Linked DNA regions of Homo sapiens. The protein of the gene in region 1 interacts with the protein of each later gene in a pairwise test. Each region holds a gene or a part of one and is shown in the gene's direction. Other genes may lie near its edges. The genes, in order: ERGIC3, PAQR5, TRAM1L1 and SLC41A1.

Region 1 (6,083 bases):
AAAGAAGACAGAATCTAGTGCCTTACATATGTGGAAAGTCCAAACTTAGCACCAGGAGGAAGGGCAGGCTCTGTAGGTACAGGTAGGGTGGTAGCTGGTGTGGCAGAAGTACATGGAGAGTCTCTTCTGAGTCTTCCCATCTTCTCCGTGTTGTAGGAAGGAAGGTCCTCAGTTGAGAATGAGGAGAGAGGGAAGGAGGTGTTGGAGATTTGAAAGAAGAAAAGATGTGACTGGTCACTTGGGGGTGGAAGAGTGCGTGGACTGGGGAGATTGAGTAGGATTGATGCAGCCCTAGGGCCTCCCTGGAGTCCGCGGCTGTGAATGCAAAGAGAGCGGTCAGCATGGTTGTCTGTGTGGGAATGGACTCAGTCAACAGAACATTGCAATTGCATGGGGTTTGGTGTTGCCAGGTGCCTGCAAAGGTGAGGGAGTCAAATATGTAAAGAACTCATCTTGATTCTGGACCACAGCATATGAGCTAGGAAAGGAGGAAAGACAGGATGTGGAGAAGCCAGTGAGGGGGCAGGAGGAAAAAGGGACTACAAGTCCTGAGTGTAGTGTCAACAAGTTATTGGAATTGGGGAACTGGAGGAAATTAGAAAGCTGGTGGAGCATGAGTTGCTTGAAATTGAAGTCACAGAAGGGGCTTTGTTAATGACAAAGTTTAGGGAATGGCCAACAGAGCAAGTGGCTTGGGTAGGCAGAGCACAAGATCAGGGAGGAAAGGATGTCCAGGAACTGGGAGGCCCGGGTACTGGAAGGATCATCTACGTGGATATGGAAATCACTAGAACGTGTGACAGAGGTAGTACAGGAGAGAGTGACAGGCAGTTGCCCAAGCTGTTGAAAAATGGCATGGGAAAACTGTTCTGGAGGTTCCATATCGATATCTAGGTGACTGAAACAAGCAGGGCTGCTTTGCCCTGAGCTTCAAAGCTGGGGATTTTTTTTTTTTTTTTTTTTTTTTTTTTGAGGCTGGAGTGCCATGGCACAATCTTGGCTCACTGCAGCCTTGACCTCCTGGACTCGAGATCCTCCCACCTCAGCCTCTCAAGGAGCTGAGACCACAGGCACATGCCACCATGCCTGGCTAATTTTTTTTTTTTTTTTTGCAGAGACAGGGTCTTGCCATGTTGCCCAGGCTCCTGGGCTCAAGTGATCCTCCCGCTTGGCCCCCCAAAATGTTGGGATTACAGATGTGAGCCATTGTGCATTTTTAAGGCAGATAAAGGGAAAGTGATCTGGAAGTGGCAGTAAGGAGCAAGAAAGACTTCTCTTTAGGCCAGGGAAGAGGTTGTGTATGGAGAGAAGATAGTCGCACGTTGAGGGGATGCCAGGGAGTTAGTGCCTGAAAGGAAGAGCCAGGCTGAAGCAAGAAAGTGAAGAGGAACCCAGGGGTTGAAGGCAGGGTTGGGGAAGGTGGGAGTTGGTGTCACAGTAAAGGATGGACAGAGCTGCACAGTGACAGAGCCCAGGGTATGAAGATGGCCTCTCAAAATGGTTGAAGTGAACAGGAAGAAAGGGCCCCCTGGAGGGTAGCTCTGCTGGTCTTCAGGGCAATCTGTGGGGGTGGGGCTGTGTTGGGGAGGGGCCAGTGTGGGGGCTGGAGGACCCTGCAGAGCTCTGGGACCCCCTCTTCACTCTGGAGGAAGCTGGGAGAAAAGGGTCTTGCTGGGAGGGCAGGAAGATGATCAGTGTCAAGCTGTTGGCACAAGGTCTGGCGGGCACTCAGTAGACACACAGCCAGAGTGGCAGCCTCTTGGCCTGGGACTGTTAGACTTGTGGATCCCCGGGCCGGGGGTGCTCTGTATTTGGAAGGATGTATAAATGCAAAGGTACAGTTGCCCAAGGCCAGAGATCTGGCTGAATTGAGGCCTGGGAGTGAGTTTCTAACATCCTTGTTGATTGGGGCTGGGGTGGGTAATAATCTCTTACAGTGTAAAGTTTACAAGTATTTTTCCATCTTAGATCCCACGTGATCCTTAGGACAGCCCTTTGCAAAGGAGAACACTGAGGCCCAGAAAGGGCAACTGATTTGCCCAAGGCCACACAGTCAGGAACTTGGCTCTTTGAGCTCTAGGCCTCTTGTCCTTCTAGGCCACTATTTTGCTCCTCTCTGGCCAGATTAGTTCACTCTCGAGGAGGGGCCCAGAAGGAGGCTTGTTAGCTGGGGCCAGACTGTGTTGCTGAGGCTGAATGTTCCAGTCTTCCCTCCTGCAACATATCTTGCTCTCATAGTTCTCATTGTGAAGCTCTGAATCTTTCTTCTCTCTCCTCCCTCCCCCATGCTGCAGTACATGCTGTGGAGAGTAAGTGGCCCTGCCCCCATGGAGGCCAAACCCCTACTTCTGGGGCAGCCTGCCCTACTAGAATGGCGGGGAGGTTGGATGGGGCTGTGATTGGGTCTCCTCTGACCTGGCTGCTGGGTGACTGTAAAAGGTCTGGGATGTATCTTTGAAGTATGGTTCCTTGCAGCAGGAGGGATTGAGGCTAGAGGGCAGGAATAAATTGTTCTGGAACAGTTGGTACAGGGTCCCCATGGGATTTCTTCTGGGGAGCTTTGAGGGTGGAGGCAGGGAAAGTGTGGATGGCATTCTCAGATCCCACCTCACTTTGAGGTTCAGTGATTTGCCATCAGCTCTAGTTAGTGAGAGCCCATAGTCGGTGGGTTTTGTTTCCGGAGATGCAGGCAGGGCCATGGTGGTAGTCAAGGCATAGAGTTCCCTGTGGACGTCAGGGAGGAACCAGGGTCTGTTCTAAAGACTCCTGAGGAGGGCGTGAACTCTCACACAGGCCCAAGGCTTGCCCTTTCTGGCTGTCCTTAAGCAGGACCAGGAGGTGCCAGGCTGGAGAAGGAATGAGGGGCAGAGAAGACAGGTGGTTTGCAGTCCAGGGGGAGGAAGGAGGAGGCCAGTGCTGCTCCTACTAATGACGCCTTCTCCCTTGCCTTCTCCCTTCTCTCCTAGTCCATGACTTGCAGAGCTTTGGCCTTGACAACGTACGTACCAGATGGAAACCATGGAGGGCAGGTGGGGGTGGGAGGCTTGGTTGCTGCCTTCATTTCCTTGTAGGAACATCCTGGGATGGGGTAGTGCATATGGAAAAATACACCACGTTCTGAATGGGGATCCAGCCTGAGGGTTAAGCGAGAGTGACTTTTGAACTGAACTCTGAGCAGGCTAGGGGCAAGATTGGGGTTGGATAAGAGCATCCTAGACAGACAGAGCCTCAGCGCAAGGTCAGGCGGGAGCATGGCCCTTCTAAGGAACTGCGGGGCAGGTGTGGATGGGTGAGGCTGGAGAAGTCGGCAGGGACCAGACCACACCGGACTCAGAGGCCACGCTGAGGAATCACATCTTTCTCATGAGAACAGTGGAAAGCTGTTGGCCTTCTTTAAGCAGGATCACGACATAATCAGATTTGCATTTTAGGAAAGATCCTTCTAGTGTCTGAGGCTGATACACAAGGGAGCAGGAAGGGAGTGTATCTGGGGGTTCACAGCCTCCAGCCTAGGCCTCCAGGCAAAGCCAGCACCTGCTACTCTGTGTGCCTAACGTACAAGTGAAGCTGGTATTTTAAGAAATCTGGAACCTGGCCAGGCATGGTGGCTCATGCTTGTAATCCCAGCTACTCAGGAGGCTGAGGCAAGAGAATCGCTTGAATAAGGCGAGGCTGCAGTGAGCCAAGATCATGCCACTGCTCTCCAGCCTGGGCAACAGAGTGAGACCTTGTCTCAAAAAAAAAAAAAAAAAAGAAAAATCTGGAACCCCAGGAGTTTGCAGGCTGTGGAAGGAGGAGTTTCTAGGCAGGGAATGGGGGATTCTTATCTCGGGGAGGTTGTCCCCTTAGGACCATAGCCTCCCCTTCCTCCCACATCTCCGCAGACGGACCCAGGTGTCCCTGTCTGCTACTGTCATCAGAGCTTTGGATGAGCTCTGGATGGTGTTGTTTACAGATCAACATGACCCACTACATCCAGCACCTGTCATTTGGGGAGGACTATCCAGGCATTGTGAACCCCCTGGACCACACCAATGTCACTGCGCCCCAAGGTACCAGCCCGGGAGGCAGCCCCCAGCCGCAGAAGGCCGGCCGGGCACCCATACCCAGTGCTTTGTTTTCCCCTCAGCCTCCATGATGTTCCAGTACTTTGTGAAGGTGGTGCCCACTGTGTACATGAAGGTGGACGGAGAGGTGAGTCAGGGAGCTCCCTACCAGAGTCTCCTGCGCGGTGCCAAGCACTGGAGTTCCTGCATTTCGTTCCGTCAGCCTGGGGAGTGAAAGCTGCCTCGTCCTCACATGGCGAATAAAAGACTGAGGCACAGAGAGGGTGGGGGATTTGCCCTCCCAGGCAGAGTGCAGGCCTGGGGCTGTTAGATTTAAAGCGCCTGCTCTTTCTGCTGCCCTCACCGCTTCTATCCGTTCCTCCGGTGCCCACCGTCTGCCTGCCTCACTGTTCTCTGTGGTCTGCCTGGGCTGGGGGTTAGGCAAGGCAAGTCTCTGTGTACCCGCTCCCAAGGCTGCCCTGGCCTGTGGAGCAGCATCTCAGCAGAGTGGCAGGATGCGAGGGGCTGAGGGCAGAGGAAGTCAGGTCAGCCTTGGTGCGTCTTTGGAGAGCTGCTTCTCAGCCTGGACCCCCGTGAGAACACCCACCAAATGCTGCCAGGATAGGTAAACTGTAAAGACTTGGCACCTGGAGGGGAAGGCTGAGGCCAAGACTAGGAGAGGGGGTCTGGCGGGCCAGGCCTTGCAGTGCAGGCCACTAGCACGGTGCTGTGTTCTCTCCTTACACGGCCAAGGCTCAACAGGAAAGGGGAAGGAGCAGGGGTGGGGCTGATGGTGGCTGGAGCCAGGTCCTAGCCCTAGCCCTGGCCCAGGCTCCCCTCCCACCCCAGGTACTGAGGACAAATCAGTTCTCTGTGACCAGACATGAGAAGGTTGCCAATGGGCTGTTGGGCGACCAAGGCCTTCCCGGAGTCTTCGTCCTCTATGAGCTCTCGCCCATGATGGTGAAGCTGACGGAGAAGCACAGGTGAGGATGGGGGCAAAGCGGCCTCTGGGGGCCTGGGCCTGAGGGAGGAGGATGCCTGCTGAGCCCACCCTCTCCTTCTACCAGGTCCTTCACCCACTTCCTGACAGGTGTGTGCGCCATCATTGGGGGCATGTTCACAGGTAAGAGGCCCAGGGCGTCTGTGAGCTGTGGGGTGGGGAGGGTAAAGCCTGGGTGCCCCAGGTTTGGTTGGGGGTGAAGGGGCAGATGCTGGCCTGGCCAGTTAAGTGACAAGGCTCTCAGCGTCAAAAGCCAAGGCCCCCACTGGGCCAGTGCCAGCCCTTGTCTCTCTCCCAGTGGCTGGACTCATCGATTCGCTCATCTACCACTCAGCACGAGCCATCCAGAAGAAAATTGATCTAGGGAAGACAACGTAGTCACCCTCGGTGCTTCCTCTGTCTCCTCTTTCTCCCTGGCCTGTGGTTGTCCCCCAGCCTCTGCCACCCTCCACCTCCTCGGTCAGCCCCAGCCCCAGGTTGATAAATCTATTGATTGATTGTGATAGTACTCACTGGTCTCCGTGTGATCCTTGCCATGGCCAGAGCCTCATCCTGGCCACTCATTGAAGGCAATTGTGACTGACAGATCGGGGCCCAGAGCCCTCGGGAGCCCCACATGGGCATCCCCTAGTTAACCGGGGTTTATTCAAACCAGGTTCATGTCCAGCCCACAGCCCTGTCCTGGGTCCCTCCTCCACTGTGGTCCTCAGGCCTCTCGGGTTCAGCCCCAGGGCTCAGATGGACCTTTTCAGCGTGAGCTTCCTGGAGCCACCATGGCCCCCAGGCTCATGAGTGATCAACCCCAGGCCACTAATTCAGGGCCCTGAGTGCATATTGGGGCTTGCCACTTCTTCATTGATGGGTAAAGCTGGGGCCGCTCTCCGCCACCCTGGGCTCAATACACCTGATCCTGTCACACTCACTGATCCCACTCTGTGCCAAACCCCACGCTGGCTCTCACTGCAGAGAGGAATCCCTCCAGGTCCTCTGCAGTCTAGATGGAAGCAAAACTGAACACTGAGGTGCGAAAGTAG
Region 2 (6,891 bases), on another chromosome or scaffold:
TGAGATGAGCTCATCCTGACTCCAGTGACTGCTGTTCTACAGAGACGAGAGGACACAGACACACAGAGACAGCATGTGAAGACAGGCAAGATTGTGTGATGCTGCCACGAGCCCAGGGATGCTGGGAACCAGAAGCTGGAAGAGACAAGGAAGGATTCTCCCTCTCAGGGTTATTGTGGTGACCACAGAATGCATTTGGAAGTGGCTTTGTAAACTGCAGAGTGATAAGCCAATTCAATATTTGGAGTTGTGTTTTATCTTCCAAAGGCCTCAGTAAACATTTGTAGAACTGACCAGTGTTGGATTGGGCATGGTGTCTCTTCACAGCCATGGGCAGAGGGACCATAAACGTAGGGGGCAGGGATGGGCAGCGGTCAGAGGGAGCCATGGAAGCTTCAGAGGGAGCACAACTCTGCAATGCCCCGACTTGGGACTTCTGGCCTCCAGGACTGAGAGTAAATAGTTGTCGTTTGAAGGTGCTGTGCATGATAATTTGTCACGGCAACACTGGGAAACCACTGGCAACATGGACCCCTTATCTGGATACAGTGGCAGAAAAGAAAGCTCTGCAAGAAGTTCCCGTAAAGCATGTCCTTGCCCTTAGTGCCCATTTCCTCCTCTGTCAAATGAGGCAAATACTTCCAGCCCTGATGAGATAATGGCCTCATCAGCAGGGCAACTCTGACGGTGTGGGTGAGGCTGTTCTAGGTTTCGCGCTGCCAGGCAGCGCCTCTCTCCTAGCCTCCGTTTTCTCATCTGCCAAGTGGGGCAGTAAGCCCTGCCCTGGTGACTCCATTGCCAAGGAGAGGGGAGGCGTGAGCGGACTTATGGATTGGGGTAGAGTTGGGTGCCAGGGGGCTGAGAACACATGTGAGGGACCTGAATCTTGCCATATTAACTAAGGGCGATGGTTTCTGTAGTACCGTTTCTGCTATCCAACAAGGCCTTGTAAACAAATATAACGTCTGGGCCCACCCAGGAGGAGCTGGTGAGTGCCTGAGGAGTAGATGGCCAGTGGGGATGGGTGAAGAACACATAGAATAGTGACATCTGATATGGCGCCCCTTGAACACACAGGCAAAGGAAGAGATGGGGCATTTTGAGTCACATGGATTGGGGTAGGACTGTTTCCCCCCAAAAAGGCTTTTTGAGTTATGTTGTAAAGATGTCAGAGGGAGACTCACATTTAAGACTGAAGCTCTCCTTCCTTCACACCCTTGCCAGGACTCCCTCTGACCACCCCAATCCCTGCCCCCCTCCGTTTGTGGTCCCTCTGCCCATTGCCATGAGGAGAGTGTCCAATCCAATATCAGTCAGTTCCACAAATGTTTACTGAGCCCTTTGGAAAATAAAACACAACTCCAAATATTAAATTTACTTAGCACTCTGCAGTTTACAGAGCACTTCCAAATGCATTCTGTGGTCACTACAATAACCCTGAAAGGAAAAAAAGATGATTATCTCTCACTCCACAAAAAAGAAACTGAGGGTCAGAGAAGAGAGACAACTTGCTCAAGGCCATTTGATTGGAGGTTGCCTGACTCCTGGAGCTGCTCTTCCCCGTCTCCTTGCTGCCTTGCTGTCATGTCACCTGCTGTCTCACTGGGTCATTTGGGCGTGTGCCCCTCGCACGCCTGTATCTTCCCAACTGGTGTCAGCTCGAAACCCTCTGTGGTCTGCAGTGCTCAGCCTGGCTTTCCAGGTCTGGGCAGCTCCCTCCTTCCAGATCCTGCCTGTGATTCCAGCTCCTTTCCCTTGCTGTACAAAGTTCCCACCTCTGCACTTTGCCTCACTCTTTCTTCCTGCCCACTGGTACGTATCCCAGTCCTTCCCACACTTCAGGTCTCCCTCGGCTGCACAGGAGGCTCAAATCCAGCATAGATTCCTGAAGTCCTGGGTCCAAGTTCTAGCTCTGCTACTGACTTCTTGTGACTGTGTGACCTTGGGCAGGTCACTTTCCCTCTCTGGGCCTCCATTTCATCACTATGAAATAGGAGTGTTGAACACAATACTCTAAATGCATCTCCATGTGGTCTAAGTACCCCCCTCCCCGGCCCCTCCCTGCCCTTCCCCCTCCTCTGATCATCCTGTGTGCTCACCATCCACAATCCCCTCTCCTGGCTCCACATCATTCTCCAAAGGGTTCATGTTCAATCATTCAGTTAGACTTTAAACTCCCTAAGAGCAGAGGAGGGTGATTTTGGCCAAGATATGCAGATCGATTCATCAGTAATCCACTGACCACCTCCATTTAGGTTGGGAGCCTCTTTATCTTCCCTCTTTAGTTTCTTCAAGGTGCACACACAGATACCTACAGCAGGCAGGAATCCAGGTGGGGCACCAGGCATCTCTGCTCACCTTGGCTGCTGGTGGTGGGGTGCCTGCCTGTGCTGTGCATGCTGCAGCTTTGGCAGGGTGGCCAATCAGTCCAGTGCCAGCCTTTGCCTCCCAGAGAATGCTTCACACCCTATTCTTCCCCCAAACCCATCACTGGCCCAGACATCAAAAGCACACATCCCTGTGCTATTCCCCTTCAAAGAGCTTCATATCTAATATCTCACTGAGTCCCCCGACTAGCCTTGGAAAGGCAAAGCAGGGATTATTAATCTCCATTTTGTAGATGGTGAGGGTCTTGTCCAAGGCTACTCTGAATTCAGCATAGAGCTGGGACTGGGCTCCACTCTTGTGTCCAGTCATTCTTGTCAAACTCTGGTCTGTGGAATATACATGCCTGCCTCTGTGTAGGCCCCAGTCTCTTTCCCTTTAAGAACTTGGGTCTGAGAGGACAAGCGCATGTCGCACGCACACACACACGCACATGCATACACACCCTTACAAGATGCACAGCCACCAAAAAGCCTAATAAAGCAAGGTGCCCAAGACCACGGTTCAGGATCCGTAAAAATGGCCGGAGATAATTGACTGCAACCTATTCACTGCAAATGGGGCAACTTGGGCCCACAAAGGGCCAGAGACTTGACCCGAGTCACAGAGTAGACTAGAGCCCAGGTCTCTGGACTCCCAGTCCTGTGCTCTCTCCACTGTGTGTGCCCTCAGCAAACAAGGCAAGGCAGGGAGGAGCAGGAGCTCAGAGAGCCTGGGGCTGAAGGGTGGGAGGAAAGAGCCTGGTGGGGGACTTCGGTCCACAGGTGTGGATGTTCCAACCTTTCTCTGGCAGGGTCGGGGTGGGGGCACCAGGTAGCTGCAACCTGTTCCTTCAGCACCTGGGAGGAGACACAGAGTCTGGTTCCCTGAAGCCAAATGTTTCTTCTTTGTCCTCTGTGTCCCTTCATCTCTTATAGCTGTGTCCACTGAGTGGCAGAGGTCCAGGCCCAGCGCCTTCCAGTCTAGGAGCCTGTGACCTGGGACAGGATCCCTGGGGAAAGGGTGAGGGCTGGCAAAGGGCCCGCCACCCTGAGCACTCCAAGAGACAGGGGTGGAACTCACTTCAAGGATTCAGGGCGGCGAGGATCCTCTCCCACCGGCGAAGCGGACACCGCGGTGGGGCTGCGAGTACCCAGTTGTTGTTTTTTTCTCCTTCCCTGTTCTCCACCCCATGCACTTTTCCGAGGGGCAAGCTCCGCAGTTCTCCCATCAAGGAGGCTCTCCAGGCTCCCTGCCGGCCTTCGGCTCCTGGGGTGGAGGTGGGCGTGGGGTACATGGGCCCTAGGAGAATGGGGTGTGAGAGACTCCCCTGGGCTTATGGCTTTGGTGGCACCTCAGGCTGTGGAATGGGGTGGCGAGTCTTTGGAAGTCACAGAGCCCAGGGTCGGTGGCACGTGATGAGGCGCAGGCCTGGCTCAGGGGGTGGTGCCCACGGCCCTCGGCTCCTCCCCCGGGGCCGCCCCGCCCCGCGCGGGAGGGGACGGGCGGGGACCGGCATGGGTAGGCGCGGCGACCCGCAGGGCCAGGTGCAGGGCCCGCGAGTCCGGGGTCGCCGCAGCCCGGGAGGAGTGTCTGGTCTCCGGCCTGCCTGTGCTGTCCCCGCGCCCTGTCCACTGGACTCCCGAGACCCTTGGAACCCAGGTAACCCGGGGCGGGACTCCCCGCCGCGCGCCGCCTCCCCACCTCCCGGTCCACGCGCACCCGCCCTCCGCGGCAGCCCCAGCCGCCCTGCGCCCGTGGAGCCCGTTGAGCCTGGGTGGCCGCTCCGAGGGCGGGTCTGGGAAAGTTTGTGCCGGGGCGGCCCTGATCCGGCGGCGGCGCGGCTCGGCCACTTTCACCGCACGCGGGGCCGGTGTGAAGGTGGGGCGGCCGCCGCCGTGCAGAAGGCTCTCTGCTGCAATCGAGGGCGGTGAGGGGAGCTGTTGCCTTCTCGCACCTTTTCTCTCACTCTCCAGGGCGTTTGCGCCGCTTATCCTTCCTCCACCGCCCCCCTCCCGCCGCCCCCACTTTAATAAAACCCTTGGATTGGGGCTGCACAGTTGGCGATTTCTTTACACCTGTGCTTCCCGCCTCCTGAGCCCAGATGTGAGCCTGGGCTGAGCAGGACCGTGTGGGTGAGGGGCGGCCCACTGCCTGCGGGGGTCGTCCCGGCCCTGTTGAAGTGGGTGCCCAGCTACAGGGAGTTCCCCCTGCTCTGTCATTGGCCTCCCCCCGGCCACAGCCCCCAGCTGGGCATCTCCTGGCTCCCCTAGCACTTCCCAAGTCCTAGTCGGATGAGCCCAGGAGAGGGGGTGGACCCCGGCCCAGCAGAACAAGAACTCAGGAGCCCGGTAACTCTTATCCGTGAGCAGAACCGGCTTCCTCCCGCTTAGGTTGGGAGGAGGGCTCAGCTTAGTGGGAGTCGGGGGTGACAACTGCCCCTTCCCACGCAGAGCCATAGAGAAGAGATGGGGAGAGGTCAGGGGATCTGAGAAGAGCTAGCAGCCAAAAAGGGACACATCCCTGATTTCATTTGAACCTAACAAACCAATGGCGAGTAGATATTAACACATGGGCAGATGAGAAGACAAGGAGGCCCAACAAAGCTCAGCCATTTGCTGGAGAAACTGGTGGGCTTTTCTCCACCACTGAGTGGCGGGTTTCCCACCGCATCCTTCCAGAGCTGCATGGTCGCTTCTGCATTCTTGCAGTGCCCTTGACTCAGCAGAGGTTTGTTTCTTTTACCCCACTCCCCACCCCCCTAGGTTCTGCCTGTGAAAGAGGTTCAGGGGAGAGGGCACCTCCAAGCAGACACAAACTCCAGTCAGTAAGGTCCTCCAAGAGCCAGCCAGAGCCTTGCTAAGCTCCCAGAACTGCAGGAGGGCAGGGACCTGCTTTGTTCCCTGCAGGGACCTGCTTTGTTCCCTGCCGTAGCAATAGTACCTGGCACACGGAAGGTGCTCTGCGAGAATGGAATGATTAGCCTGCAACAGCAAAGCTTCTTTTCCAACTGCCTTATCTCTGCCCTTGGCAAGCAGAAAGGGCACTCTGAAAAGTTGGATCAGAAAGGTGTCCAGCCCCACCACTGAGATCCCTTGGCACCCTTACCCACGTGGGGCAACATTTTCCCCTTACACCAAGAGTACATCCTTAATCCCGTATGCTTTTCTTTCTTTCTCTTTCTTTCTTTCTTTCCTTCTTTCTTTCTTTCTTTCTTTCTTTCTTTCTTTCTTTCTTTCTTTCTTTCTTTCTTTCTTTTCTTTCTTTCTTTCATTCTTTCTCTTCCTTCCTCCCTCCCTCTCTCTCTCTCTTTCTTTCTTTCTTTCTTTCTTTCTTTCTTTCTTTCTTTCTTTCATTCTTTCTCTTCCTTCCTCCCTCCCTCTCTCTCTCTCTTTCTTTCTTTCTTTCCTTCTTTCCTTCCTTCCTTCCTTCCTTCCTTTAGTTCGTTTTCTTTCTTTCTTTCTTTCTTTCTTTCTTTCTTTCTTTCTTTCTTTCTTTCTTCCTTCCTTCCTTCCTTCCTTTCTCTCTCTCTCTCTCTCTCTCTCTTTCTTTCCTTCTTTCTTTCTTTCTTTCTTTCTTTCTTTCTTTCTTTCTTTCTTTCTTTCTTTCTTTCTTTCTTCTTTCTTTTTGACTGAGTCTTGCTCTATTACCCAGGCTAGAGTGCAAGGGCGAGATCTCAGCTAACTGCAACCTCCGCCTCCCGGGTTCAAGCAATTCTCTTGCCTCAGCCTCCCGAGTAGCTGGGATTACAGGCGCCTGCCACCAAACACAGCTAATTTTTGCATTTTTAGTAGAGACAGGGTTTCACCATGTTGGCCAGGTTGGTCTCGAACTGCTAACATCAGATGACCCACCCGGGTTGGCCTCCCAAAGTGCTGGGATTGCAGGCGTGAGCCACTGCACCCAGCCCCCATGTGCTTTTCCAGAGAGACAGAGGACTTTCACTTTACCCTTGTCCCGCCAAGGAGAGGCCGAGGCTGGTGGGTTCCATGCCAAGCTTGGCTCTACCCTAGACTGAGGCAGAGCAACTTTGTCCCTTTACGTAGAATTCTTATGCATCCCTCTGGGGGTAAGAATTGGAATTGGAATTATTTGGAAACTTTAATCTTCATTGTCTCCTCTCTCTCCTTACCACTCCATGGGGCAGCTATGTATTGAGGGAAGAGAAGGTGCTTTTCTGGGCCTCAATTTCCTCATCTGTAAAATGAGAGCAACAGACCCTGTGTGGTTTTAGGAGATAGTAAGTGGTTCCAAAGGACTCTGTGGGCTGCAAATCAAACTGTAAGAGCGGATTGTTATTTTCTCATGTGTATTAGCCTGGCCTCCCTGGTTGGCGGTAAGTCCTTTCTCAGCATCTTGGCATCCCTCATTCATCCTGAGTACACAGAAGGTTTACAAGACATGTTTTCAAAAATGATCCGTACAGGAAGAGAAAAATTGTGAATTCATAAGAAATGGGGGGAGATTTTTTTTTTTTTTTTTTTTTTTTTTTTTTTTTTTTTAGCACAGTGTTAGGAGTCAAGAATG
Region 3 (7,507 bases), on another chromosome or scaffold:
ATTGTGATGGGGGCTTGCTTTCTTGCCTAGGCTGGTGTCAAACTCCTGGCTTCAAGGAATCCTCCTGTCTCAGCCTCCTAAAATGCTGGGATTACACATGTGAGCCATTGCGCCCAGCCAATGATAAAGGTCTTTAACATTAAGAGAAAGGATAGTATAGGCCAGGCACTGTGGCTCATGCCTGCAATCCCAGCACTTTGGGAGGCCGAGGGGGGTGGATCAAGAGATCAAGAGATCGGGACCATCCTGGCCAACATGGTGAGACCCAGTCTCTACTAAAAATACAAAAATTAGCTGAGCATGGTGGTGCGCACCTGTAGTCCCAGCTCCTAGGGAGGTTGAGGCAGGAGAATCGCTGGAACTCGGGAGGCAGAGGTTGCAGTTAGCTGAGATTGCGCCACTGCACTCCAACCTGGTGACAGAGCGAGACTCTGTCACAAAAAAAATAGAGAAAGGACAGTATAAAATACTCATCTGTTTAAAGTGTGCCAAAAATATTTGGGCAATTATAATTTAATTTTTAATATTTCTAATACTTATTAATTTCCAAGCAATTAAAGAGAAACACATGCTTTATTTCCAGACTATCTAAATGAATCATATAAACTAGCTATGTATAAGGATTATTAGTCTCTGAGCATATGTTTTAAAGCACAGATTCAAAGATTAAAATACAAGTATGTTAGAAGTAAAAAATTTCAATGGAAGTTTACCTTTAGGGAAACACTAAAATAGCTCTGGTGTTGTGTGACCCTTAGGTAGGTCTACATCATCACACCTTGAGGGAGAATCTGTCAAGGATTCAAATAACTGTAAGAATCATTTTTTCTCTGTAAAACTAGGGAATACAGGCATTTCCAATGAGAATTAAAATAATTTTTATCTGTATGGGTAGTTTATTAAAGTTGGATTGTTTTGGTCAGAAAGTTGATAAAAGAGTTAAAATACTATTGATGTTTTCATCTATATTAGCACTGATATATAAGGATATTACAAAAATAATGCTAAAATGATCTTTTCTTTATTTTTCATTTGGTTTTCATTTTTTGTGTAAGTGTATATATACACCCTTAGTGAGTTAAGAAAAATTTGAAATTCCATATGAATCATTAGGGAGGCAGTGATTCCATCAAGGAGGAAGTAGATTTTTTGAAGACATCATCAAGCTGCAATTTAACGTTCCTACTAGACACCAAATAGAAACACAGCAGCATTGTTTTTTCATGTAAAAAAAATGTATAAGGTGGTTTTTCTGTCATATGTCATGCCATATATATTATACAACTGAAATTTTGGAAGAGTAGTAGAATCAGAGGAATATTCCACATCAGTTACTTCACAGGCAGCAACCAAAGAAATATTTTATATAAACAAAGAGAGACGAGAGAGAGACTGTTTTAAAAAATACAATAAAAAATACAACAGTTCAGTGTAATGTTTGCAAATTACAATTTATACAACGGCCTTTTTGTAGTTTTGCAGCTTCCACAAATAGTATATCTCACAAAAGCTGAAGTAATCCATTAACACAATACTTACAATGTTTAGACCTTAGACCAAACTTTAAATTCCTTAACCCTGGCCTACAGGCATTATAAGAAATGCCCCCTAATGATCTCTGTTACTTTATCAATCATCCCTCTCCCTTACTACATTCTTGTCATCCTGGCCCCTTTGCTGTTCATGCGACAATCATTCTTGCTCTTGCCTGGTAACGTTTGAACTACGTCCTAGGATGTTTCCCTCCAGACATTTGTATAGTTTACTTTAACTTCATGTACATCTCTATTCAAATATCACCTATTTAGAGAGGCTGTCCCTGCCCACTCTACCTAAAATAGTTATCATCATTTATGCTTCATCTTCTTATCCACATTTTCTTCCCAGCAATTTTCACTGGCTATTTGCAAACACATATTTGTACTGTTTGTGTCCTCTAGTTCTCCCTGATTATTATGTAAGCTCCATGAGGATGGGTATAAGGTTTATTTTCACCCATAAAAGGGGCAATTGAAAAAATAAATTACTAAATATTGATTTTAATTTTATGAATTCTTACATTTTAGTGGGAGACTGACACTATTAACCTGTTCCAGGAGTTTATCCTTAGATAGTGCTTCATATTTTTTCTTGGTATGTTACTAATAAATCCATGGGCAAATAAGTATTCTAAAAGCTGTAAATATTATGTTGAGTTTTCCTTATTACGATAAATATTTAGCCATATTGCATAGGGTGTGTTCTTCTAAAAGCTCATGTTTTAACATGTCTTATCAATTACAAAAATGACTTTAAAATAATAAATATATCTTTAATTAAATTATTTAAAACTTTAAGTCAATCAAATCCCAAGAGACTTTGTAATTTCATGCACAAGATAAACTGTATTTTTTTGCTTAATTGAGCTAAGCATTTGGTGAGCTCAGTCAATTATAAATGTTAATTATAAACATCGATTTAAAAATCAGACTTGGGTCTGATATTTTGAAGTTCAAAGCAACATTTCTTGCTTCTTCAAATGCAACTGAATTCTGGAATATTAATGTTCAATTCAAGTAATTGAATAATCCAAATTTAAATTATTAAAAGGTTGGTATTATAGAGATATACACATATATATTATTCTTAGATATAAAAATATTGAAAAGTGAGGCTACCTCTATATTATAATGTTTCTTCTGTACTTTACTATTTTAGCAAAATCAGAATCAATGTCAGTTTATATTTTAAGGTAATTATTTTAAAAGACACATAACTAATTTAAAAGAGCTTTTTATAGCTAAGCTATTCATATAAATAATATTGAGTTATAAAATACAGACATCAAAAGGTTGTATTGCATAGCTAACAGCAAGAACTAATTATTAACACCTATTTGAAATACAGTACCTTAACTATCGTGAGAACTTTTATTGATATTTTTAAATCAAATGTTTCTTATAACAAAATCAATATAGCATTTTAAATAGATAATTCGACCAATGCCTGGCAATCGTCTGAATACATGAGACCAAGAAAGATTGAGGATAATCAGAAACTGATTCATATGTTGTTCTGTTGATTCCACCTGTAAACTTGTTTATTCAACGTTAATTCCTTGAAGTATTAATGTGTAATTAATACTCCAGAATTAATTCTATAATCAATGACTATTACATGACAAAGACAAAGATAAACAGTATTACGTTAACACTATTTGGCTTCTAGTGTCTTTTATCTTTTAATATATGCAAGCCAACATACAGAAACAAATCAACTTATAATATTTAATCCATGTTTTAGGGAAAAAAATCTTTCACCATTTCCTAGAAAGGAAGATTGGACTCAAACCAAAATCTAGGAACTTTACCTGGATGTATCTTATAGTTATTATTGATTATTGACTGCTGTGTGCATCCATTTTCTCACTCGTAGATGGAAGTGTCTGTTGCATTTTTCCTACGCTTTGGGTGTGTGGGAGCCAAAAACTTTATTCTTTTAGTTCACAAGTCTTCAGACCAAGAGTAAGTACAACAAAGGATAGGACTTTCCTTTATCTGCTCCTGGATCTGATTTAGCTTACAAAAATATCCTGTGTAAGAAGCCTGAACCTGATGCTATATTGATATGAGACTATTGTTTGCATTGGAAGGAAAAAGTGTATATTTCATGTCAGAGGAAACAAAATTTATTCCCAACGGAAAGGATGTGGCTATTTTTAAAAAATTAGCAAATACTAGGTACATTTCTCATTAAAAGTTGATGTGTATGGTCCACACCCTCCCCTCCATCCTCACTCCACCTTGAAGTAAAACAGGCTTGTGCCTACCTTGGTATTGAAAATTATATAATATAACTTCTAATACTAGGTCATAAAAGGCCATTTACTTTCTGTCTTGCTTGCTAGAAATCCCACTTTTGGAGCATTAAGCCACCCTTTCATGCTAATGCCAACAATGCACCTAGAGGCCATAAGTAGGCATTCTGGTAGACAGTCCTAGAGTACCTTAACCTTTTCAAGGCTTCTTATAAACTTTGTGTTTATAAGCATGAATTAGCTTTATCCTTAGGGCAAGTTTAGCCTTACTTAAAACAGTGTAGCTTTCCTTGGATCTTGTCTGAATGTTGCAAGTGTTCAATGAGGATTCTACTTTCTGGCTGTTCCAGTCTTGAAAGTTTCCAAATCCTACGTGAAGTCTTGGGAAACTTCAATTCACAATTCCTCCATATATGCAAAACCTACACAAATGACATATGAGGTTCTTTTCTGTTATAATGAAGAAATTAAGTTTTGAGCTTTGTAGCCAAAAAGAGACCTTTCCATGAACTAATACATCTCTCCCTCTAAGTGCCAGTCTTTCAAAATACTGGCTAGACGTTATCATTTCAAACATTATTATTATTGCAAATAGGGGAACTAGTTTTAATATGCTATCTTGTTGACCTAGTAAATATTTCCAGGTATAATTGATTTACAATAAGAGACAATACAGCGTAATAGTGAAAAACAGGCGCTCTGGAGCCGGACTGGATTTAAATCTTTGCTCTAACCCTTACTAGGGAGGTGAATTTGGCCATATTACTTAACCTCTCTGTGCCTCAGTGTTTTGTCTCTTGAAAAGGGGTGGGGGAGGGGAGATTATCACAGTATCTACCTCACTGGGTGTTTCAGGAAAGTTAAATTCATAAATATAAATAAAATGCTTAGCACAGCAACTGGTAATTAGTACTGGGAGTTTGCTGTTATTATTATGCTATTGTTGTTATAATTAATGATCTGAAGAATAACCAGAGCTCTATAGGTTTATCATGATTACTAATGAAGATGCCACTAAAAAAAAGAATTCAGGAGCATCTTGGCGGTGGCAGCGAGTTTGAAGATGCGACGATCAACGTTGAAGATCACCGCTCGCAACCCCGGGCCTGGCGCCGGGTAGGGGCGCGGCGCTCGATTTCCTTCCCTGCCTCCGCCGTCCCCCTGGTGCGCATGCTCAGCTCAGCTCGGCCCTCGCCTTTGATTTATTTTTTTTCTGGGCGGCCGCTGCGACCCGGGACTGACTTCGGGATGGGAAGTGGAGCCCCCGGAGCTGCTACCGTGGCGGCGGCGCTGTGAGGAGCAGCCAGGGGGAGGCAGCTGCGGCTCGCCGGTGAGTATCCGGGAAGCGCCACCATGGGGCTCCGTAAGAAGAGCACCAAGAACCCCCCCGTTCTCAGCCAGGAATTCATCCTGCAGAATCATGCGGACATCGTCTCCTGCGTGGGGATGTTCTTCCTGCTGGGGCTTGTGTTCGAGGGAACAGCAGAAGCATCCATCGTGTTTCTCACTCTTCAGCACAGTGTTGCTGTCCCTGCAGCAGAGGAACAAGCCACGGGCTCAAAGTCCCTCTATTATTATGGTGTCAAAGATTTGGCCACGGTTTTCTTCTACATGCTGGTGGCAATCATTATTCATGCCACAATTCAGGAATATGTGTTGGATAAAATTAACAAGAGAATGCAGTTCACCAAAGCGAAACAAAACAAGTTTAACGAGTCTGGTCAGTTTAGTGTGTTCTACTTTTTTTCTTGTATTTGGGGCACATTCATTTTAATCTCTGAAAACTGCCTGTCAGACCCAACTCTTATATGGAAGGCTCGTCCCCATAGCATGATGACATTTCAAATGAAGTTTTTCTACATATCCCAGTTGGCTTACTGGTTTCATGCTTTTCCTGAACTCTACTTCCAGAAAACCAAAAAACAAGACATCCCTCGTCAACTTGTCTACATTGGTCTTCACCTCTTCCACATTACTGGAGCTTATCTCTTGTACTTGAATCATTTGGGACTTCTTCTTTTGGTACTGCATTATTTTGTTGAATTACTTTCCCACATGTGCGGCCTGTTTTACTTTAGTGATGAAAAGTACCAGAAAGGCATATCTCTGTGGGCCATTGTGTTTATCTTGGGTAGACTTGTGACTTTAATTGTTTCCGTACTCACTGTTGGGTTTCACCTGGCTGGATCGCAGAATCGGAATCCTGATGCCCTTACTGGAAATGTAAATGTGTTGGCAGCTAAAATTGCTGTTCTGTCGTCCAGTTGCACGATCCAAGCCTACGTAACATGGAACTTAATTACTCTCTGGCTTCAGAGGTGGGTAGAAGATTCTAATATTCAGGCCTCATGTATGAAAAAGAAACGGTCGAGATCTTCTAAAAAAAGAACAGAAAACGGAGTGGGAGTGGAAACTTCAAATAGAGTAGACTGTCCGCCAAAGAGGAAAGAGAAATCTTCATAATCTTTGCAAGCGCATTGATTAATGTCTGCAAAGGAATCTGCTCTTTGAGGTTTCTTTCTGCACTAGAGATTTTTCTGTTTTTGAAAATAGTTCGTGCTCTTCGGTTTTTGTTATTGAACTGTTTCATGTATTTTTTAAAGACATTTGAGGGGAGGAGGATTATTATGAATGGGAAAAAAAGATTTTGGTTGAGACTAAATTACTCATCGTCAAAATAATGTCAAAATAGTTTTGGGGATCACCACTATATTTTGTTTTGATTTTTAACCTTTCAACATTTTCCTAATGATTTGCAGAGATAACTGCACAATTTTGCATATCAATGATACTGGTTCTTACTCCCACCAGTGTTTCATAATACTAACAAGATGGTCTCTCCTAGCAAGATTATGTGTTTAATGCTTGCTTTGGGGTAAAATAAAAGTACGAAAAAGGTGGAAGTCAAATCAGTATTCTGTAATTGTTAGAATTTATTTTTTAAGAACTTACAACTCAGAAAAGATTGCTAGACTCACCAAAATAATAAATGTTCTTTATTTTACAGGTAGTGATTATTAGTGCTTCATCCCCATTTAAAAAAACACAGTACTAATGGGTAACACATATGGAGGTTTGCTGCCATATATATTGCATCAAAATATCATTAATTAATATAAAAATATTAAAATCATTCCTGTCCATTCCACTTGTAAATGGGAATTCATGAAATTAAATATTACTTTAAAAAGGACATTGAACTTAGTCTTTTTTAAAAATGTTTATTAAAAATGATTCCTAATGAGGCCTTGTAAGATCAGTAACCACAGCATCTTAGAAAAATATTGTTTGTATACCAGGTTGAAAAATAATACTTGGCATGTGTATAAAAAAAGTCAGCTAATTACATTTGGAAAGCATGTTATGCATCAACCTTCAATAAGTTGAAAATCAGATAGTCACATGAAAGGCTTTTGAAAAATAATGTTGTGATTATTTGTCTTCATCTTTAATTGGGGAACATTTATCTGTATAAGACATATTTTGAAGATTATTTACATACACATGTATGTATAATCTGTATCTTTGCAGAAGCCAATGGAAACAATGGGAATTAGTGGGTGAGTATTTATACGTATTGCCTCTCAATCCTTATTTCAGTTTTATTTCCATAATGTGTTTATATAATTTTTCAGTAAGACAGTACTTTACAAATATGCTAGGGGAAGGCCATATATTTCCTATTCCGTTATATTTTCTCCTACTATGTCT
Region 4 (7,026 bases), on another chromosome or scaffold:
TGCACAAGGGTTCCAATCTCCACATGCTTTTTTCTTTTCTTGAGACGGAGTCTTGCTCTGTCACCCAGGCTGGAGTGCAGTGGCACTGTCTCGGCTCACTGCAACCTCCAACTCCCAAGTTCAAGCAATTCTTCTGCCTCAGCCTCCCCAGTAGCTGGGATTACAGGTGTGCGCCACCATTCCCGGCTAATTTTTGTATTTTTAGTAGAAACAGGGTTTCACTATGTTTGCCAGGCTGGTCTCCAACTCCTGACCTCAAGTGATCCACTTTCCTTGGCCTCCCAAAGTGCTGGGATTACAGGCATGAGCCACTATGCCCAGCCCAAACTCTACATCCTTGCTAACACTGATTATTTTCTGGGTTTTTAAATAGTAACCATCCTAATGAGTGTGAGGTGATCTCTTACTAATCTACAGTATTGCTCAACTTTATTTTATCTATTTTATTTTATTTTATTTTATTTTATTTTATTTTATTTTATTTTATTTTTGAGACAGAGTTTCACTCTTATTGCCCAGGCTGGAGTGCAGTGGTGCGATCTTGGCTCACTGCAACCTCCACCTCTTGGGTTCAAGCGATTCTCCTGCCTCAGCCTCCCGAGTAGCTTGGGATTACAAGCATGTGCCACCACGACCAGCTAATTTTTGTATTTTCAGTAGAGACGGGGTTTCTCCATGTTGGTCAGGCTGGTCTCAAACTCCTGGCCTCAGGTGATCTGCCCGCCTCGGCCTCCCAAAGTGCTGGGATTATAGGTGTGAGCCGCTGCGCTCGGCCACTGCTCATCTTTAACGACAGAGTGTGGGTGTTGGAATTGCCTTGAAAGACCATCTGATCTGGTCCCTGAATTGAACATTTTTCAAGAGCTTGAGGCCCTTGTAACTTGTCTAAGGTGTCCAGCCGGTCTACGTGAGGAGGTGTACTGGGGAGATAAGCAGGGGGCCATCCCTGCTGTCTCCTGTAGGAGACCCAAGGCTCTTGGTCCAGTGCCCTTGCCAAACATAGTGCTTGGCCTCCCAGCCATGATACGCAGACCAACCCATATATATCCGCCTGGCCTCCTGCCTCCTCCTCCCTCTCCAAACCTGGAGGCTTTCCATTCTTAAAACAAATAAAAGAAACCACCTACCCTGTTAGGGCCAGGGAGGGAGACACAATCCTAAACCTTTTTGCAAGTCCTCAGTTTCAATTGCAAGTAAAGTAGCTTTCAAATAGCCAGTCCTGGTTCCTGCAGTCCTCTTAGCACTAACTAGTGGAATACTGTCTGAACCCCAGTTTACTCATTCACAAAATGAGAATAAAAATAGCCCCTACCTTACTGGGTTGTTAAGATGATTAAAAGAGAAAATACATGGAGAGCACTTAGCCTAGCACACAATCAGTCCTTAATAGATGTTAACCAAAGACATTGGTAGGAGAGCCAGGATTGATTGTCTTGGGACTAGAACTCAGGTCTCCTGACTCCCGGTCCAGGGCTCTTCCTACAGGAGTACACTTGCTTCTCCTAGCTGAGAGATTGAGGAAGGTGTGTGGGGGTAAGGCAGTGCACAGAGAAATAAAAAGCCTCTTGCAGGCCAGCATTCAGAGGTTTAGGGGCCACAGTCTTAATTCAGAGCCTGTTCAGAAGGAGAGTTGCTGTGGCTGAGGCCCAAAGCCCTTGGAGATAGAAACCAAACAAACTCTCTAATCTCCCCAGCCTCGGCCCCAGCCCTGTGGAGCCCAACTCTTCACAGCTGAGACAACAGAGAAACTGGACTGAAGGCAAAGGGGCCAGGGATTGCAATTTGAGGGGGGATTGCAAAGGATTTCTGGGGTGTCAGGCAGCCCAGGGCAGCTCAGCTGTGTGGGTCCCCATTACCCTTCCCCACCCACCTCCAGGAAAACAGAAAAGGTAGGGCCAGACTGAGAGTCTCCCAACCGGCAGAAACCCTCTCCATCTCCCTGGTTCTGGGTGGCAGGAAGGGGGGTTGTGTTGTTTGAAGAATCATGGGCTTGGTTTGGTTCCAAGGTTCTTGGAGGAAAGGTGGCTGGCGTGCTCACTCCCTGCTGATTCTATTTCCTCCTCGAGCCCCTGATCTCAGACTACCTGTTGAACCTCAATGCCCGCCCTTTGGGGCACTGAAATTCCTGGGTTCTGTTTTCACCTCGTAGCACTGGGAAGTCTTCCAGAAGGTGACAGAGGTCTTCATCCTAGTGCCTGCGCTGCTGGGGCTCAAAGGGAACCTGGAAATGACCCTGGCATCAAGGCTTTCCACTGCAGTGAGTATCCTGGCTGGGAGGAGTGGGGCACAGAGAGGACTCTGGGCAGCACAGAGCCAGAGACTGGGAGAGGGCTACGAGCCCTTCTCCACTGCCCAGGCCTGGAGTGTGGGGCTGGGGTGGGAAGGGAGGGCCTGGCTGGGCAGGTGTAGGGAGATCCCAGGCTGGGTGTCCTGCTCCTGGGCAGGGGCTCCCTGCCCAAAGTGGTTCCCAGGCTTGGTTTCTGGATGTCCCAGCCACCCCTGGACTCCTGCCCCACCCCCTACCTCTCAACCACCTCGTGACTGTTTGTGCAGCTTTGACAGGCAGGCATCATGCTGGTTCCTCCACCCGCACAGATGGGGGCCTCCTCTGATCTCCAGCCCCTGCTTTGCAGCTGGGCGGGAGCAGAGCCAGGCCCTCCCAGCACCCCCAGCCCCCCGGCCATCCCATTCCCTTTACCCATGGCAGCTTGCTCTTCTTTAAGGAAACAGACAGAGAGGAGCTGCTCGTCATTCCTACCTCCCACAGTTGTGAGCCGTGACGATTCCGGGCCTGAACAGATACAGGGCCCTGGGCTGGAGGTGGGAGATGATAAAACTCAGGAGGCCAGGGATCTCCCTGCAGGGTCAAGAGTCTAGAGAAGGTGACAGACAGAAGTGGCATCCAAGTTAACCCACCCTGACTTGCCATACCCGACTTCTGGCCCATGCCACCCACTCCTTCCCAAATACTCTTGGAGCCTCAGTCCTGCACCAGCAGCTGACCTTTCCTTCCCTGGGATCGCAGGCTGGCTTCAGAGTCAGGGACTGGGTTGTTCTGACCCATGCAGGAATGGGCTGCCCAGATAAGCAGGGCAAAGGATAGAATTTGCCTCTGCTCAGCTGGTGTCCTGAGAGGAAGAGAGGCGACTGCCTAGGGGACCCCCTTCCAACCCCCCACCCAGCTGCAGGAGCCCAGCTTTAGCTCCTTCCCTTTCACCTCAGTTTCCCTGATCCTGCTTCACCTTTCCGGGACTGTCAGGTCCTGCTCTCAGAGTCTTAGGCCACATGTACTGCCTCATGATCTAGGCAGGAGCCTAATGGATGGAGCTTCAGGCCTTTTCCAGCCTGAAGCTCCAGCCCCTTGCCCTCCCTTTCCCAGGCCAACATTGGACACATGGACACACCCAAGGAGCTCTGGCGGATGATCACTGGGAACATGGCCCTCATCCAGGTAAGAAGGCAGGGACCAGAGAGGGTGGGCTAAGCTTCCCCTTAGTCAGGAATCTCTGAAAGGCTTAGGTCAGCCCCAGCAGGCTCCTGAGTGAATCTCCAGTATCCCACTGAGCTGGCTTCCCCCAGAGTAGCTCTAGGAGGTAACTAGGTTACCCAGGAAAACGCCCAAGATGAGGAGGGCCCAGCATCACCCATTCTGGTTCTCAGTTCTTGGTGGTGCACGTGCCTTTGAGTCCCAGCAGATCCTGGCAATATGAGCAGACTCAGGAGTGCTGAGATGTCCTGTGCCACTGCTGTCCCATCTCCCCATGAGACCACACAGGTTCAGACTGGGAGCCTTCCCCCTTGAGGCCCAGGCCTTGACTCTGGGTGGAAGTCTCCGGCTCTGTTGAACCTCACTCCCATCCCCAGAGGCACACTCATTCAGCCAGTAACATGTTCTGGGCTCCTGCAGAGTGCACTGCCCAGTACTAGTGGCTGGTGTGAACCTAAATAAATAAAGACATCCTTCCAGCCTGGGAGGACTGGACCATGCAGTCCAGCCTGCCTCCTGGGGCTACTGCCAGCCAGGAAGAGGTCTGCCCAGATGCTTATGACCTCAGCTTAGGAAGCCCACTGCTCTCAGGGCTTTCTGAGTTACCACTCCTGTCCCCAGGTGCAGGCCACGGTGGTGGGCTTCCTGGCGTCCATCGCAGCCGTCGTCTTTGGCTGGATCCCTGATGGCCACTTCAGTATTCCGCACGCCTTCCTGCTCTGTGCTAGCAGCGTGGCCACAGCCTTCATTGCCTCCCTGGTACTGGGTAAGAAAGGGAGGGCATAGAGGAGTAAGGAGTGCCGCCCCAGAGAACACTGCACCTGGCACTTCCACTCTCTCTTTTTGTTTGTTGAGACTCCTTTATCTCTTCTCACCCTGCCTGCCCCTCCTCCCACTTGCTCACCAGGTATGATCATGATTGGAGTCATCATTGGCTCTCGCAAGATTGGGATCAACCCAGACAACGTGGCCACACCCATTGCTGCCAGCCTGGGCGACCTCATCACCTTGGCGCTGCTCTCAGGCATCAGCTGGGGACTCTACCTGGAACTGAGTGAGCCACCAAGAGTGTGGCTTCTTGGAGTCCTGGGTGGGGTTGGGAGAGATGGTAGTAGTTTGCAAATGTGCAAGAGTTTCTTCTGTGTTCTTAAACTATTTGGTTTGAACACAGGTTGTAATAATTCCTGATCTTAGAGATTTGAAGCTAAGTACTGATCTCAAATTCAAGCAGGCATCAGGGGCAGGGGAAAAGTATCAGAAGTATATTCCTGTGTGGTCCTGCAGATTCTTACTTCTCTTGGAGGGATGAGGTGGAAAGGGTAAAGGAAAGGAACCAGAGGCTTAGATCTGCTTGCAAAATGAAGAAGCGGGTGGGAGATGGTGTTTTCTGGGCTCCAATCAAGAGACCTAGAGTCTCTGTCCTCTGGTCTCTGTCCCTAATTGGCTCAGTGCCTGGCTAGCTCTCTCCCTTGGTTTCCTCATCCATAAAATGGAAAAGGCTTGTCCCACCTACCTCCTGAGCTGCCAGTGAAGATCAAATGGGATAATGTGTTTACTGGCATTTAGTGTAGTCTTGCTATTGATCTGTTGGGACATTTTCAGGCTGAGCCAGGGAGAAACTTAGGGTAGGGAAACACAGTGCTTATCTCCTTCTGACCTCTGCCCTCTCAGATCACTGGCGATACATCTACCCACTGGTGTGTGCTTTCTTTGTGGCCCTGCTGCCTGTCTGGGTGGTGCTGGCCCGACGAAGTCCAGCCACAAGGGAGGTGTTGTACTCGGGCTGGGAGCCTGTTATCATTGCCATGGCCATCAGCAGGTAGGCTGGGGCCCTGAGTATCCACTCCTACCCCACTCCAACCCTTCCACAGACTTCTTTTTAAACCCTGGAGAGATGGGGTGGGGGTCAGACCCTAGAAATGTGTTCATTAGTGTTTCAGTCACATGTCCTTCTGTTGAAAATGACAGAAACCATCTGAACTGGGTTTCATTCCAAGGCAGAATGTATTGGCCTGGAGAACCAAAAAGGCACAGCTGAATTCAGCGACATACCTAAGATCAGGGCCCCAGTACTCTGTGACTCTTAGCTCTGCTCTTCTCTGTCATGGCCTACAGCCCAGGTTTATGCTTTTCTTACTCCTACAAATTCCAGTGGGAAGAGAGATTCTTCCCCCAACAGTTCCACAAAGTCCCAGAATAGAGTTCCACTGCTTCTCATCTGGTGACATGATTATCTCCAAACCAGTCAGCGTGGCCTTGGGGCTGCAATCCTCTGATTGGATGGACCTGGAGCCTAGCTATCATTGAGGCATTGTCACCTGAGCCACAGTCACTGAGCTTGAGAGAGGTGGTTCCCTGTGGAGGAGCCCAGTGCTATCACCAGAAAGGGAAGTAAATGCTGAGTGGGCAGAACAACAGAGGTCCTCAGAGGCAGATAGTCCTGCAGGCTGCTCCTCCGGCCAACTTAGAGGGCAGGTACAGGAGGTGGTTGCCTGACCCAGTACCACCAGCTTGTTCTGGAGTCACTGTGCCCAGTCAGAATGTTATGAGCAGCACCTAATCCTGTCAAGGGAGGCAAGGACTGGATGGTGAGGAACTCCTGAGAGCCATGGTGCTTCCCTTCATCTCCAAGGATAGGTGGGCCTGGACCTCTCATCCCAGAGACTAAGGCAGAACCCTTCAGTGGTCTTTGCGTCATTTTGTCTTTATGTCTCTATAGTGTGGGAGGCCTCATCTTGGACAAGACTGTCTCAGACCCCAACTTTGCTGGGATGGCTGTCTTCACGCCTGTGATTAATGGTGAGGTCTGGGCATCAGCTATCAGAGGGCAGGGCTGGGGGAAGGAAAGGGACAGGAGAAGAGGACTTAAGGGGTTGGTTTCTGTATCAGTCAGGGTTCCAGCAGACGAGAATCTAGCTCAGATGGTTCAAGACCTTAATGAAGGGACTGCTTACAGAGGTGGGAGCAGAGTAAAAGGACAGATAAGGGATGTTGAGGCACCGAGAGATTAGCAGCAATGGGAAGCCTCTACTCCTAAAGGGTCAAGGGGAGTATCATAGTCCATTATCTGTTGCTAGAACAGAATACTTGAAACTGGCTAATTTATAACGAAAAGAAGTTTATTTAGCTCACAGTTCTGGAAGCTGGGAAGTTCAAGATTGAGCAGCTGCTTCTAGTGAGGGCCTCATGCTGCATCCAAACATCCAAATGGAGAAACAGAAGGAAAACTGGGCATGTGCAAAATGGGCAAAACAAGAGAGGCAAACCTCGCTTTATGACAACCCACTCTCATGGGAACTATACCTTTCCCAAGAAAGACATTAATCCATCTTAATAACCTATTCACTCTTAAAGGCACCACCTCCCACCACCACATTTGGGGACCAAGCCACAACATGAGTTTTGTTGGGGACAAACTATATTCAAACCATAGTAACGAGGGAATAGCATTATAGGAGTCCAGTGAAAGCTCTGTCTTTGCCCCCAACATGGGGAAGCCAATGCTGAAAAGCAGGGAGGGATTGGGAAAGAAATACCTG

What was found.
Region 2: the proteins of ERGIC3 (region 1) and PAQR5 interact in binary tests that used the Homo sapiens proteins (3 or more experiments, as listed by UniProt).
Region 3: the proteins of ERGIC3 (region 1) and TRAM1L1 interact in binary tests that used the Homo sapiens proteins (3 or more experiments, as listed by UniProt).
Region 4: the proteins of ERGIC3 (region 1) and SLC41A1 interact in binary tests that used the Homo sapiens proteins (3 or more experiments, as listed by UniProt).

Annotation. Positions count from the first base shown.
Region 1 is NC_000020.11:35,552,078-35,558,160, forward strand, and holds the end of ERGIC3 (endoplasmic reticulum-Golgi intermediate compartment protein 3), read left to right. Parts: intron 1-2,294; coding exon of another isoform or gene 2,295-2,309; intron 2,310-2,966; coding exon 2,967-2,998; intron 2,999-3,955; coding exon 3,956-4,052; intron 4,053-4,129; coding exon 4,130-4,194; intron 4,195-4,895; coding exon 4,896-5,032; intron 5,033-5,116; coding exon 5,117-5,172; intron 5,173-5,347; coding exon 5,348-5,427; 3' UTR 5,428-5,557; downstream 5,558-6,083. UniProt on the Homo sapiens protein: Possible role in transport between endoplasmic reticulum and Golgi. Positively regulates trafficking of the secretory proteins SERPINA1/alpha1-antitrypsin and HP/haptoglobin.
Region 2 is NC_000015.10:69,295,031-69,301,921, forward strand, and holds the start of PAQR5 (membrane progestin receptor gamma), read left to right. Parts: upstream 1-3,881; 5' UTR 3,882-4,026; intron 4,027-6,891. UniProt on the Homo sapiens protein: Plasma membrane progesterone (P4) receptor coupled to G proteins. Seems to act through a G(i) mediated pathway. May be involved in oocyte maturation.
Region 3 is NC_000004.12:117,083,036-117,090,542, reverse strand, and holds TRAM1L1 (translocating chain-associated membrane protein 1-like 1), read left to right. Parts: upstream 1-4,966; 5' UTR 4,967-5,149; coding exon 5,150-6,259; 3' UTR 6,260-6,989; downstream 6,990-7,507. UniProt on the Homo sapiens protein: Stimulatory or required for the translocation of secretory proteins across the ER membrane.
Region 4 is NC_000001.11:205,796,184-205,803,209, reverse strand, and holds part of SLC41A1 (solute carrier family 41 member 1), read left to right. Parts: intron 1-2,149; coding exon 2,150-2,257; intron 2,258-3,379; coding exon 3,380-3,451; intron 3,452-4,108; coding exon 4,109-4,253; intron 4,254-4,394; coding exon 4,395-4,541; intron 4,542-5,158; coding exon 5,159-5,306; intron 5,307-6,206; coding exon 6,207-6,286; intron 6,287-7,026. UniProt on the Homo sapiens protein: Na(+)/Mg(2+) ion exchanger that acts as a predominant Mg(2+) efflux system at the plasma membrane.